2 linked regions of the Homo sapiens genome follow. The protein of the gene in region 1 interacts with the protein of each later gene in a pairwise test. Each region holds a gene or a part of one and is shown on either strand. Other genes may lie near its edges.

Region 1 (5,341 bases):
CTTTCAAAACTTCAGACACCTAGAAATATATATAGTGCAGTTCAGTTTTAGTTTCTGCAGCATGGTTTGGAAACAAAAGATACATAGGATTTAAACTCGATTTGTTTTCTTCTTACAGTAGAAGTAAATGCTCTTGTGGCTTGAATCGCATCTCCCAAGAAAGATACGTTCACGTTCAAACCCCCAGTACTGTACATGTGACCTTATTTGGAAATAGGGTCTTTTTAGATGCAGTCAAGATAGAATTAGATCATACTGGATTACAGTGGGCCCCAATAACTAGGTTTTTTTGTTAAAAAAAAAAAAAAAGGAAATGTGAACAGAGAGAGAATGCCGTGAGATGATGGAGGGATAGATTGGAATGATGTCTGCGAGCTAAGGAATACTGAGGATTGCTGCCAACCATCCGAAGCTGGGAGAGGAGATGGAACAACTCCCTCGGAGCCTCCAAGAGGAACCAACCCCACTGATGCTTTGATTTGGGATTTCCGGCCTGAACTGTAGGAAAATAAATTTCTGTTCTTTTAAGCCATTTTTACCAGTTTGTGGTAACTTGTTACAGCAGCTGCAGGAAATTAATAAATGCCAATGTTGAAAATTAAAATCTAGAAATATGGCTCTAATTATAATTTCATAGAATCATTTTTTCCCCTGAGTTTCCCCTGAGTTTGCATAAAAGTGAAAAAGTAGAGGACAGAGTAGATGCCTCCCACATGAAGACACAGATTATTAAGGCATTGTTTGATGCAATTAGGGCAGAGAAACACGGGCTTCTAGCTAGAGCCTCGGGTTCTCTTTTGCTCATTTCTTCCCTCTAATTAAGAAAAAATATTTCCAAAGTTTATTATGCCTCCTAAAAAATGAATTTATAATTCATTTGTCCATTTAGTCTTAGGTGAAATGCAGTAAACACTAACTTAAAAGGACAGCCTTTCCCTGTGTTTGACAAATGTTCCCAGAAAACTGGTTTTAACTGTAAAGCCGGGAGTACATTTTCTTGTCATGTCCTGAAATGGAACTAATAAACCCAGAAGGCCTTAGGAAGCAACCATTAGCTCTCCCCCTTACCCTAGTTCTCAGGAATTGGAACTGGAAATCCACTGGAATTGATTTCTTGAATAACAGAGCTCGTTGTGTCTTAGAGCTTGACCATGAAGGAGCTTCCGCTGGAAAGACCTGAGGATGTGATTTCTAACATGATCAAAGAGGCTGGGTTATGCAACTTCTCTGTTTCATCCCTTCCTACGTCCATACACTATTCTACTGGATAGAGAGGCACTGACTGCTGAAAACCGCAAATGAACCAACAACACACAAGAAGGCCTGGCGGCAGTGGGGAGCGATCTGGCATTGACCATCAGGTTTCTGGGAACAGAGTTAAGTAGAAGGAAGGGAGGGCAGCAGTTCCTTGGACCCAGACACTCAGTGTGGCAAGTTCCATGTGTGCTCAAGGCATTCTGGCTTCACGGGAATTAGAAACCCTAGGAGCGGATGGGGTCGTTTTTGACCGTCTGTGTCTTCCTTTTTGCGCTCAGATCCAGTTCGATGAGACGCGTTATCCCAGAAGCTGGGCTAACTGACGGTCTGGAGCCCCAGCGGGTAATCATCAAAGGCCGGGTTTTTGTAGGCCACCAGGTGCGTGTCGCAGCGCTGCAGGCCCAGCGTCTGGCCCCGCCTGCAGAGACATGCGGACAGCACCACGGTGCTGGCGAGCAACAGGCCGCTGGCGGCGCACAGCCCAGAGAGCAGGAGCGCGAAGCTGGGCTTGGTGGTGAAGGCGGCGCACGGGCTCCTCCAGCCCGAAGACCGTGGCTGGCTCAAGCCCGCCCTGTTGGCCGCCAGCACGCACACGCGGTAGGTGGTGCCCGGCGACAGCCCGTACAGAGGGTGCTGCCGGGCCGTGGCGTAGATGACCCCCACCACCGACTGGTTCCCCGCCCAGCCCTCCGCAGAGTAGCGGATCTGGTACCCATGCACTACCGAGTTGGGGGCACACCAGTGGACCAGCGCCGACGTGTCCGTGGTCTCCGTCACCCCCTGCAGCCTGGGCGGGTCTGGGATGGTGTCTTCCCCGCTGAGGCCGGGGCACCGGCACCGCCACCGCCTCTGCAGCTCCGCGCACGGGGTCTGCAGGTGCTTGCAGGGATGGTAATCACAGGGGACGTCCTGGTGAGGCGTTCCCACCTCCTCCTTCCTCCCTTCCTCCTCCTCACTGTAGTCGTCCAGCAGCAAGACTGGAATCTCGCCCTCGGAAAGACTCGGGTTGGGGGCTTGGGGTGTGGCGTGTGTCCTCTGGCCGGGCTGAGGCGAGCTTATGCTGCGGTCCCACGAGGTAGGGAAGGGGCCCAGGAGCTTGCTGGCCAGTGGGGTGGAGGCAGCTGAGATATCAGGCTCAAGGACAAGCTCGGGGGCATGTTCTCCTCGGTGCTGGGTCCTGGTGGTGCTGGCAGCCCTGGGGAAAACGCTGGAGTTGCTGTGACCTGCTACAGAGTTGGTCGTGGAGGGGGCAGTCCCCTCCCGTGCATCGCTGTGCGGCCATGCAGCTATCGTGCGAGAGCCCACGTTAGGGGCCTTGGAGACACTCTGCTGGTCTCCCGCAGGCCGGGTGGCGGGGGCTGCGCTGGGCGCGACGGTGGTACCCTGTGCGTAGGTGGAGCGGTTGAAGCAAGGTGGGTGTGAAGCCCCGAGAGTGGTGCTTTGGTCGGACTGGCACACTCCGGGCAGCTGGGAGAGTGACAGGGAGGCTGAGAAGGGGCCGCTGGATCCCGCAGCTGGCGCGCACATAGTGTCTGCTGCCCTGGAGGGGAGGCCAACCAGTTAGAAGACGTCTGGCTTCAGGGACACTTCTGCGCAGAGCTTTGAATCCTCATTGCCGACGTCACCCCCTGCCAAGCCCATCAACGCGTCTCTGCCAGGCACCCCAGGGCACACACGCCGCACACACACATCACCTCATTGATTCTGGGGAAACCTTTGGAGGAAGCTCCTGTCCTCACTCCCACTGGGCAAAGAAGCAAACAGAAGTTTAGAAGGAGGAACTAATTGCCCAAGACACCATAGCTAGCAATGGCAGAGCCTACCCCGGGGCAAGCACTGAGAAGGAGTCCAGATTCTCTGAGTGTCATTTGCCATTTTGTTCTCACCTGTCTGCTTCCTGGCAAGAAAGCACTAGTAATAAAAATCATACTCGGGCCGGTGCGATGGCTCAAGCCTGTAATCTCAGCACTTTGGGAAGCTGAGGCGGGCAGATCACAAGGTCAGGAGGTCAAGACCATCCTGGCTAAGACGGTGAAACCCCCTCCCTACTAAAAATACAAAAATTAGCCGGGCATGGTGGCGGGTGCCTGTAATCCCAGCTACTCAGGAGGCAGAGGCAGGAGAATCACTTGAACCTGGGAGGCAGAGGTTGCAGTGAGCTGAGATTGCACCACTGCACTCCAGCCTGGGCAACAGAGGGAGACTCTGTCTCAAAAAAAAAAAAAAAAAAATACTCATACTAGCTACCATTTCTGAGTGCTTCCCACGTGCTAGGCGCTATTCTTCACACTCCAATGTGTCAACTAATTTAGTCTGCACTACTTTTGCAGTAGACTCTATTACCCCATTTTACAGATGAGAAGGTAGAGGCCAAAGTAACTCAGGTGAAATAGCTCAGCTCAAATCAACAGTAGTAAGTAGACCAGGTACAGTGGCTCATGCCTGGAGTCCCAGCACTTTGGGAGGCCCATGTAGGAGGATCACTTGAGGCCAGGAGTTGGAGACCATCCTGGTCAACATAGTGAGACCTCGTCTCTACCAAAACAAACAAACAAAAACTTAGCCAGGTATGGTGGCACATGGCTGTGGTCCCAGCTACTTGGGAGGATGAGGCAGGAGGATTGCTTGAGCCCAGTAGTCTGAGGCTGCAGTGAGCCATGATCATGCCACTGCACTCCAGCCTGGATGACAGAGCAAGACCCTGTCTCTAAAATAAATTAATAAAATAGTAGTAAGTAGGATGAAGCTGGACTCTCTGGCTCCAGAGCCTGTAGTCTCAGCTTCATCATTAATACTGTGATGAGACCCTTGACTGCAAAGGGCCCAGGTGCTTCTCTTTGGAGGGAATGTGGGGTTGGGGGGCAGACTGAGCCCCACCTCACAGCTGGGCTTGGGTGGGAGATGAGAAAAGAATCTTGGCCGGGCATGGTGGTTCATGCCTGTAATCCCAACTCTTTGGGAGGCCCAGATGGGAGGATCACTTGAGTCCAGGAGTTTGAGAACAGCCTGGGTAACATGATGAGACTCCATCTCTACAAAAAGATTAAAAAAAAATTAGCCGGGTGTGGTGGCTTGCACCTCTGGTCCCAGCTCCTCTAGAAGCTGAGTAGGATGATCGCTGAGCCCAGGAGGTTGAGGCTGTAATGAGATATGATTGTACCACTGCACTCCAGCCTGCGCAACAGAGCAAGACCCTGTCTCCAAACAAATAAACAAAAAGAATCCTGCAGAATGGTGGTGAGGGGGGTTGCCTCCCAAGGTATAGTGTTTACTTGGTGGAAATGGTTTGAAAGTGCTCAGGACTGGGGGTGTTCCCAGCCCCCCAGCTCCCACTGTCTCCTGGTGGCCAGCCTAAATGTGGCTCCTCACTGCAAAAACAGCTCTTTCTAGCCAATAGTCTTCATAGGAATTTCCCAAGAGAGCTCTGTAAGCCCACGGGCCTAGGACTGGATAACCCGGGAGCAGGAGGCCAGGCTCCATCTTGAAGATTCAGTAGAACCCAGTGGTTAAGCCAGACTACACTTCCCAGCCTCCCTTGCAGGTAGGTGTGGCTCCTGGCTAATGAATGTGAGTGGAAGTGAGGAGTAACACCTCCCAGCCTGGCTCACCAAAAGCCTCCAGGTCTGCTCCTCCATGCTCTTTGCCCCTTCTGGCTGGCTGGAATGGAGGCAGCTTCCATCACCTGGATCCCTGAGTATGACTACATGGGAAAGGCTGCCCAGCCCAACATGGCCAAAGTGCCAAGCATGGTCACATGAGCAAGATGTAAGCTGGAGAACTTCAGCTCCTGAAGGCTGACCCTCTGCCCTCAGCCATCTGCTTTGTAAATGTGTTACCTGCTTAGGACAGTTCTCTTTGCATCCGTGAGGAGCCAAGACAAGTCACAACTGCAAGTGAGGGGGTTGCCAAAGAGGTTGATCGATAGGACCTGGGAGGAATCCAGGGTCCAAGGAGGGAAGGAACTCAAGTTGCAGCTGAAATACAAACAAAAAAATTAATTAAGTCAGGTTTTTACAATTGTATCAAAGATATTCCCAGAGAGGCATGGTGTCAGAACCATGCCCATGGTATCAGAAGCATTCTG
Region 2 (7,609 bases), on another chromosome or scaffold:
TTCCTATCACATTAAAGTTATTACGGATATCTTGAAATAATTGTTTACACTCTTACTACTTTTAGGTCAGATGCTAGATCTTGCCATTTAATGCATTAATAAACAAAAATGCTATTATTTTACACATTTTCTTATGTTTTCATAGCTATATTTTCAATATTTTGATGTCCTCTGTAATTCTATGTTTTGCTTGGTGCATTTAAAACCATTCTTAGGCTGGGCGTGGTGGCTCACACCTGTAATCTCAGCACTTTGGGAGGCTGAGGTGGGCGGATCACAAGGTCAAGAGATCGAGACCATCCTAACCAACATGGTGAAACCCCGTCTCTACTAAAAATACAAAAATTAGCTGGGTGTGGTGGCAGGCGCCTGTAGTCCCAGCTACTTGGGAGGCTGAGGCAGGAGAATCGCTTGAACCCAGGAGGTGGAGGTTGCAGTGAGCCGAGATCATGCCACTGCACTCCAGCCTGGAGACAGAGCAAGACTCCGTCTCAAAAAATAAATAAATAAATAAAAAATAAAAATAAAAACCATTCTGAGGAAAGGGTGTGGGCTTCATCAAACTGCCAAAGAGGAATCCCTCCTCCAAAAGGCAAAAGCCCAGGCAGGAGGCAGCTGGGGCAGCTCCTTCTAGATCCCACCCGCCCATCACTGCCAGCCAATGAGGGGCCATATCACAGCCACGCCTTAGGCCAGGCTTATCCAGCTCTGCATTTTCATTTTTGCAGAAGGGATGTTTTCCTGAGAAAGGAGGTCTTTTCGGTAAGTGCTCAGACTTCCTTCAAAGTGAACTTTTCAGGGATTGGGCTAGAATGTACGATCTGCCTAAGAAAGTTTCCTCTCAGATCCTGCCAGTTCTAGACATGTCAGAGTGCAGGCCTTTCTTTTGTTGCTAGATTCTTAGATTTTTCAGAAACCAGCAAACCAGATTTTATGTAAAATCCTCCTCTGACTGTATGCCTGCCTATCTATACATCAACGCAGAAAACCCAACAATACACTTTTGACCTAAAATCACCTCAGGGCTCATTAGTGGCCGGCATCCCAGCGCAGGGAGACCTGTCCCATACACCTCAGATACACTTCCCTTCAGGAGAATGGGATCCAGAGCAGGTTTCTAAGGTGTGATGCCAGCATTTGGCAGCAGAGGGCACTCCTATTACAGGCTGTCTAGGCTGTGTCCTATTTCCTGAGGTGTAGGAGGGAGACCGTCTGTGAAAGGGGCTGAGCTGGGTCAGAGGGCGGGTGACTAGTACTGGGCTGAGGAGGGAGTGAGGGGCCATTGGGATATTGAAAATCCATCCTCCTGTCCTCCCACCCAGCAGTTATGGGCCAGCTGCTCGGGGTGACAGGAATGTCTCCTGGACTAGCCAGCTAGGGCCAGTCTCCCTTGGTCTATGCACCTGTCCCCACGGCTGATGCCAGAGCTTGTGTGTGCTACAGTAGAGGTGGGCAGCAGAAATGACAGCTTTCCAGTGCCAAGTGATCTAGTCCTCTAGAGGTTGTTGGTATCCTTGGGACTAAGAAAATAACTTGGCACATGATAGGCATGCAGTAACTCCTCCCTGTGTTGAGTGTTGAACTAAGGCCCAGTAAGGGAAGAGTGTGAGGGTTCCATGCATGAGGTCTTAGTCAGCTCAAGATTCAGGATTTGGTTTTTGGCTAAGGTAGATCTGGGTGCATGTCAAGTCTACTTTCTTACACCAGCCCTGCAAAGGAGGGCACCCTATTTACACATGGGGAAATTGAGGCTGGTGGAAATAACATGCACAAAGGTATCCTCAGAACTACTTTCTGCAAATTTCAGGGATACAGTGGGAAGAGAGCTGAGAAGCAAATGTCCTTGGCGATTTCACAGTGTCAAGTCAGGAGTGCACACCACTGACTTGTAGGCCCAGGGCAGAGCCTACATGTAATTTAGCTAATTTGATTCTAACAACTCTTCTAGGTAGAGTTTACTTTTCCCATTTTACAGAGGAGAAAAATGAAAGGTCAGAGAGGCTACGTGACTTTCCCAGGGTTATGTAGCTTGGGAATGTGGAATGTAGATGTGTCTTTGACTCCCAAGGCCTGGACTCTTCTCTTTGCTCTTGTGGGTGGCAGAAAATCCTGGGGTGAAAAAAGTGCCCTGACTAGGAGAAGACGGCAGGAACAAGATCCCCCATCCGAATACATGGTGCACAGATATCCCAACTTAGTCCTGGTCCCTGCTCCATCCACTATTTTTTTTTAATGTTTAAAAAATTGTGATAAACTGTACATAATGTAAAATTTGCCATCGTAACCATTTTCAAGTGTACAATTCAGTGGCATTAAGTACATTCACATTATTGTGCAACCATCACTACCATTTATCTCTGGAACTTTTTCATCATTCCCAAACTGAGAATCTGTACTCATGAATCAATAACTACTCATTCCCCCTCCTCCAGCCACTGGTAACCACTATTCTACTTTCTGTCTCTGTGAATGGACTATTCTAGGTACAAGTGGAATCATACAATATTTCCAGGTATAAGTGGAATAATACAATATTTGTCCTTTTGTGTCCAGCTTATTTCATTTAGCATAATGCTTTTGCCTTGATCTGAATGTTTGTGTCCCTGCAAAATGGGGTTGAAATCCTGACCCCCAAGGTGACGGTATTGGGAGGTGGGGCCTTTGGGGGGTGGTTAGGTCATGAAGGTAGAGTCCTCATAATTGGGACTAGTGCCCTTATGAAAGAAACCCCAGAGAGCTAGCCAGCCCCCTTCTACTAAGTGAGGGTGCAGTGAGAAGATGACAGCCTATCAACCAGGAAACAGGCCCTCACCAGGCACCGAATCTGCCAATGTCTTGATTTTGGACTTCCCAGCCTCCAGAACTGTAAGAAAAAAACTTCTATTGTTTATATGCTACCCACTCAATGGTATTTTGTTATAGCAGCCTGAATAGACTAAGACAGTTTTCAAGGTTCATTCATGTGTCAGAATTTCCTTCCCTTTTAAAGTTAATATTACATTGTATGGATATACCACATTTTGCTTATCCATTAATCTGTCGATAGACATTTGAATTGTTTCCACTTTTTGGCTATTGTGAATAATGCTATTATGAACATGAGTATACAAATATCTGTTTGAATCCCTGCTTTCAGTTCTTTGGGGTATATACCCAGAAATGGAATTGTTGGATCTTTTGGCAATTCTTGTTTAATTTTTTGAGGAACTACCATTCTGTATCCACAGTAATGGTACCATTTTACATTCCCACCAGCAATGCACAGGAGTTCCAGTTTCCCTGCAAGTCCTTGACAACGCTTGTTCCCATACACATTTGCTTTGGCTGCCTCAAAATGTAGAGCTTGGCAGATTGAGATTGTGGTGGGACGAAAGCCTTTGAAATGGAAAAAAGAGAAAGAGGGAGGGAGAAGAGTTGCGGAGTGGAGAGAGAGAGAGTGTGTGTGAAAAGGAGCTTTTTTCCCACTCTTCCCTGACCCTCATGGGGGCTGCAGCGACTCCTAGAACCTTCAAGCAGCGAGACAGAGGTTCCCTCCACCAGGCGCAGAGCTCTCCTTACACCTGGCCTCCTATTCCCAGCAACTTTAAGGAGATATTTTTAAGTGGCCATGGTTTTATCAAATGCCTATTAAGTTTTTGCCACAAAAGGATTTTATTTAAAATAAAAATAGGGGTAGGTATTTGACTGATGCCCCTTGTGAGTGCTCTAGAGAAGAGGAATGAATACTGACATGTCCTATCTTCCCAGATGCAGAATTGTAAAACAAACATAACTGCTTTTCACATGTGAAAGAAAACTGGCTTAGAACATACTAGCGTTTTCTTTGCCATGAAGGAGTTCACCTTCAGTGACTAAGCCAGAACTACTAGAGTTGCCGGGCCTAGGGACAGGAGACATTGCCAGTGCTTAGCCAGGCTGGCCAGGACTAACCATCTCTGCAAGGAGTCCACAAGAAGCCTCAGGGCAGCCTTTCCCTGCTCCTATCAATTTGAGTTGAGCAACAAACATTTTGACCAAATATCAGCTCTATGGCACAACTCACAGTTACGGTGCCCACAAAACGGAATCTCAGCAAAGCAACTACTACTATGGGAAGAGATCAGGGACTAATATCAGGAGAAAAAATAAGTTTTTCAGTCCTGGGTTTCCAAGTTGGCATCCCCAGGGCAAACCAGCAGGTTGGGAGGGTAGGGGGTGGTGGGTGGGGGCTGCGGAGGGAAGGTGGCTGCTGTCTGTCTGATCAGACCTGGGGCACACCCAAAGAACTCTCCTAGCTTGGGATCCGGTCAGGAAGAAACCAGGACGGTCCCTTTAGGAGGGTGGGCAGGGCTATCTGCCCGGGGGGTGCGGCCGCCCCTGCACAGCAGGCTATCGATTGTACCGGAGGCAGGGTGTGGGGAAACCGGGGCAAGTCCAGCCTCTCAGCAAGGCCAGGAAGCCATTCACTTGGATCCTGGATTTTACTAACGGATTAAACGTGGCATTCCCGCCTTCCCCCATCCGTTACAGACCTAAAAATAGCTCGTCCGAGAGGGGCCGGGAGAGGCTCCACCTCTTCTTGAGGTGGGGCGGGGCGGCTGTAGTAGGAGCTGGAGGCACCAGAGACCCCAAGCCACGAGCTGACCGACGCACCGAGGAGCTCTCTGTCCGCGGTCCCGCAGGTTGGCGGCACTGGAGTGGGCCGGGCAGGCTCTGCCTCCGCCGCAGAGAGCGCCCGGACTGCGTGGGGCTGGGGAAGCATCCCGGGAACGGCGGGCGGTGAGCATTCCGGGAACCATCTCTGGGCTGTCTGGGGCGGTGGAGCAAGTCTGGAGGCGGGACGTGGGGCGAGTATGGGAGCCGCCACCTCGAGACGTCTTCCCGCCGTCCCCGGCTCCAGGAGACCCCACGGTGAGCGGGCCGCGCGGGAAAACTATGCCAGGAATTCGTCCCGGGAGCGGGGCGGGTGGGTAGCTTGGCTGCAGTCCGAGGGATCAGCGATTCGGGAGGTTAAACATTAGCGGGGGCGAACTCCCTGCCGGGGTGCAGCGGGGCGCGGGAGGAGCCGGCTGCGTGCGTCCGCGCTGCCCAGGGCGCGCCCTTCTGGCCCGGCGCGGCCCTGCAGCCCGGCCCCCTCGGCCTGCTCCGAACTGCGGCGCCCAGGGAGGGAAGGACCCGTGCGCGGGGGACGAATGACGGGATGCCCCAAGACTCGGCTTCACTGGGAAGACGGCCTTGGGTTTTTACTTTTTGAAAAAAGAAAAGTGATTTGGGAGGGCTTGATGATCTGAGTGCCGTAGGTAAAGGAGGATTCTTTTAGTAATGAGGTGATTTAAAAGCAATCGCATTGGCATCTTTCGTTCCCCTTCTTCCTTTCCTGGGCTGGACCTCAGCAGGAGGCAGACGTGGTATTTTCATCCTGAGGTGGCTGCGCATAAAGTCCACCGAAGACCTGCTCAGTGCAGGACAGGGATCAGGAGGCAGGGCAGAGGAGGGGGTCCGAGGCTGCCTGGGCAGGGCCTAGTTCACGGAGCACTTCCTAGGGGCCCAGGGCCTAGGCTGCCCCTGCCTGGTCTCCTGGAATTCGATTTCTAACAGGACTTTGGAGAGAGGCCTGGGAAGTATGGGGTGTTCTGACTTGGCTTCTCACACCCTCATCTGCAGATAGGGTGGGTGATCTCTCCCTTCTCAGTTGCAGCCCCTAGCACCTCTCCTCCCCCTCCCGGATGTGAGGACTGGCCAGTGAGAACAATCCTGCTTAGGGAAGGCTGATCCTCCAGTCTAGTGGCTGATAAGGGGCCTTCTGACTGTCTTGGTCAGACACCTCCCTCATCTGGGAATATTTTTTGATACTATCTAACTTGATAAAATACCTCATGAAGTTGTATGCTTCAGGTTGGGAACAGAAACCTGAGTTCATGTGGGCACCATAACTGTGGGTTGTGCCATGGAGCTGATATTTGGTCAAAGGTTTTTTGCTCAACTCAAATTGATAGGAGCAGGGAAAGGCTGCCCTGAGGCTTCTTGTGGACTCCTTGCAGAGATGGTTAGTCCTGGCCAGCCTGGCTAAGCACTGGCAATGTCTCCTGTCCCTAGGCCTGGCAGCTCTAGTAGTTCTGGCTTAGTCACTGAAGGTGAACTCCTTCATGGCAAAGAAAACGCTAGTATGTTCTAAGCCAGTTTTCTTTTACATGTGAAAAGCAATTATGTTTGTTTGTTTTACAATTCTGCATCTGGGAAGATAGGACATGTCAGTATTCATTCCTCTTCTCTAAAACACTCCCAAGAGACATCAGTCAAATACCTACCCCTATTTTTATTTTAAATAAAATCCGTTTGTGGCAAAAACTTAATAGGCTTTTGATAAAACCATGGCCACTTAAAAATATCTCCTTAAAGTTGCTGGGAATAGGAGGCCAGGTGTAAGGAGAGCGCTGTGCCCGGTTGAGGGGACCTTTGTCTCGCTGCTTGAAGGTTCTAGGAGTCGCTGCAGCCCCCATGAGGGTCAGGGAAGAGTGGAAAAGGAGAACACCATGGAATCTGAGAATAAGGCTAAGCTCTGCAGTGGCAGTACTTCAGGAGAGCTCCCAGGTCCCTGTCATCTCTGTTGAGGTCTCTGGAGCTCCCTTGCATACTGTGTGTGCATAGCCTGTTTGCAAACTGTGTGAAGGTTTCCTTGGCAGCCACAACAATTAGCATTAATGACACGCCTGAGCTCCCCCAGTGGGCACTGCTGAAGTTAGCTTGGGAGCCAGGGCAGGTTTGTAAATGATTGCCTGGCAGCCACCTTGGAAACTTGGCTCCCTCAAGTTCTCCTCTTGACTGCATTCTTGAGGAAGCAGAAGAGACAGTAAAGTGGTGATGTTGTTGTTGTTGTCTAGCTGTCAGTTTATGTTAAAAAATAAGGTGTTTGGCCAATTTTGAGGGAGTTATTTTTGACAGATTATTGGTGGGCCGGTTTTAGAAGAACCATAAAGTCTCCAGGGATTGTTTCACAGTGGGATGGCTGTCTTGTGAGGTGGTGAACAACTTGTCACTGGGAGTGTGCAAAGCAAGGGTGGTAGATGGGTTTTCTATATTCTAGATGGGTGTGGGATTGTCCCAGGCAGAAACCAACTCTTAACAATGAAGCAAGTTTGAATGTTAGCACAAATATTCTTTTGGGTCCCTTATTCATAATATTGGTCTAGGAATGGGAAGTTTCCCAAAACCCTGTCAATATATCTAAAGGTGATTAAACAGCTTCAGTTTTCCTAATGACAGTGAGTCATTTCTTCTCTCTCTTTTTTTTTGAGACGAAGTCTCACTCTGTCGCCCAGGCTGGAGTGCAATGGTGCGATCTCGGCTCACTGCAACCTCTGCTTCCCAGGTTGAAGTGATTCTCCTGCCTCAGCCTCCCGAGTAGCTGGGACTACAGGCATGAGCCACCACGCCCAGCTAATTTTTGTATTTTTAGTAGAGACAGGATTTCGCCATGTTGGCCAGGCTGATTTTGAACTCCTGACCTCAGGCGATCTGCCCTCCTTGGCCTCCCAAAGTGCTGGGATTACAGGCGAGAGCCACTGCTCCTGGTTGACAGTGAGTCATTTCTTCCTTGTGTTTTTATTCCCAGATGTGGGAAAAGCAGTCT

What was found. Proteins that work in one complex are often made in the same cells at the same time.
Region 2: the proteins of LRRN4 (region 1) and DZIP1L interact in binary tests that used the Homo sapiens proteins (3 or more experiments, as listed by UniProt).

What each region holds. Positions count from the first base shown.
Region 1 is NC_000020.11:6,039,450-6,044,790, forward strand, and holds the end of LRRN4 (leucine-rich repeat neuronal protein 4 precursor), read right to left. Parts: intron 5,232-5,341; coding exon 5,094-5,231; intron 2,798-5,093; coding exon 1,573-2,797; 3' UTR 1,097-1,572; downstream 1-1,096. UniProt on the Homo sapiens protein: May play an important role in hippocampus-dependent long-lasting memory.
Region 2 is NC_000003.12:138,112,609-138,120,217, reverse strand, and holds the start of DZIP1L (cilium assembly protein DZIP1L), read left to right. Parts: upstream 1-4,609; 5' UTR 4,610-4,890; intron 4,891-6,737; exon of another isoform or gene 6,738-6,829; intron 6,830-7,609. UniProt on the Homo sapiens protein: Involved in primary cilium formation. Probably acts as a transition zone protein required for localization of PKD1/PC1 and PKD2/PC2 to the ciliary membrane.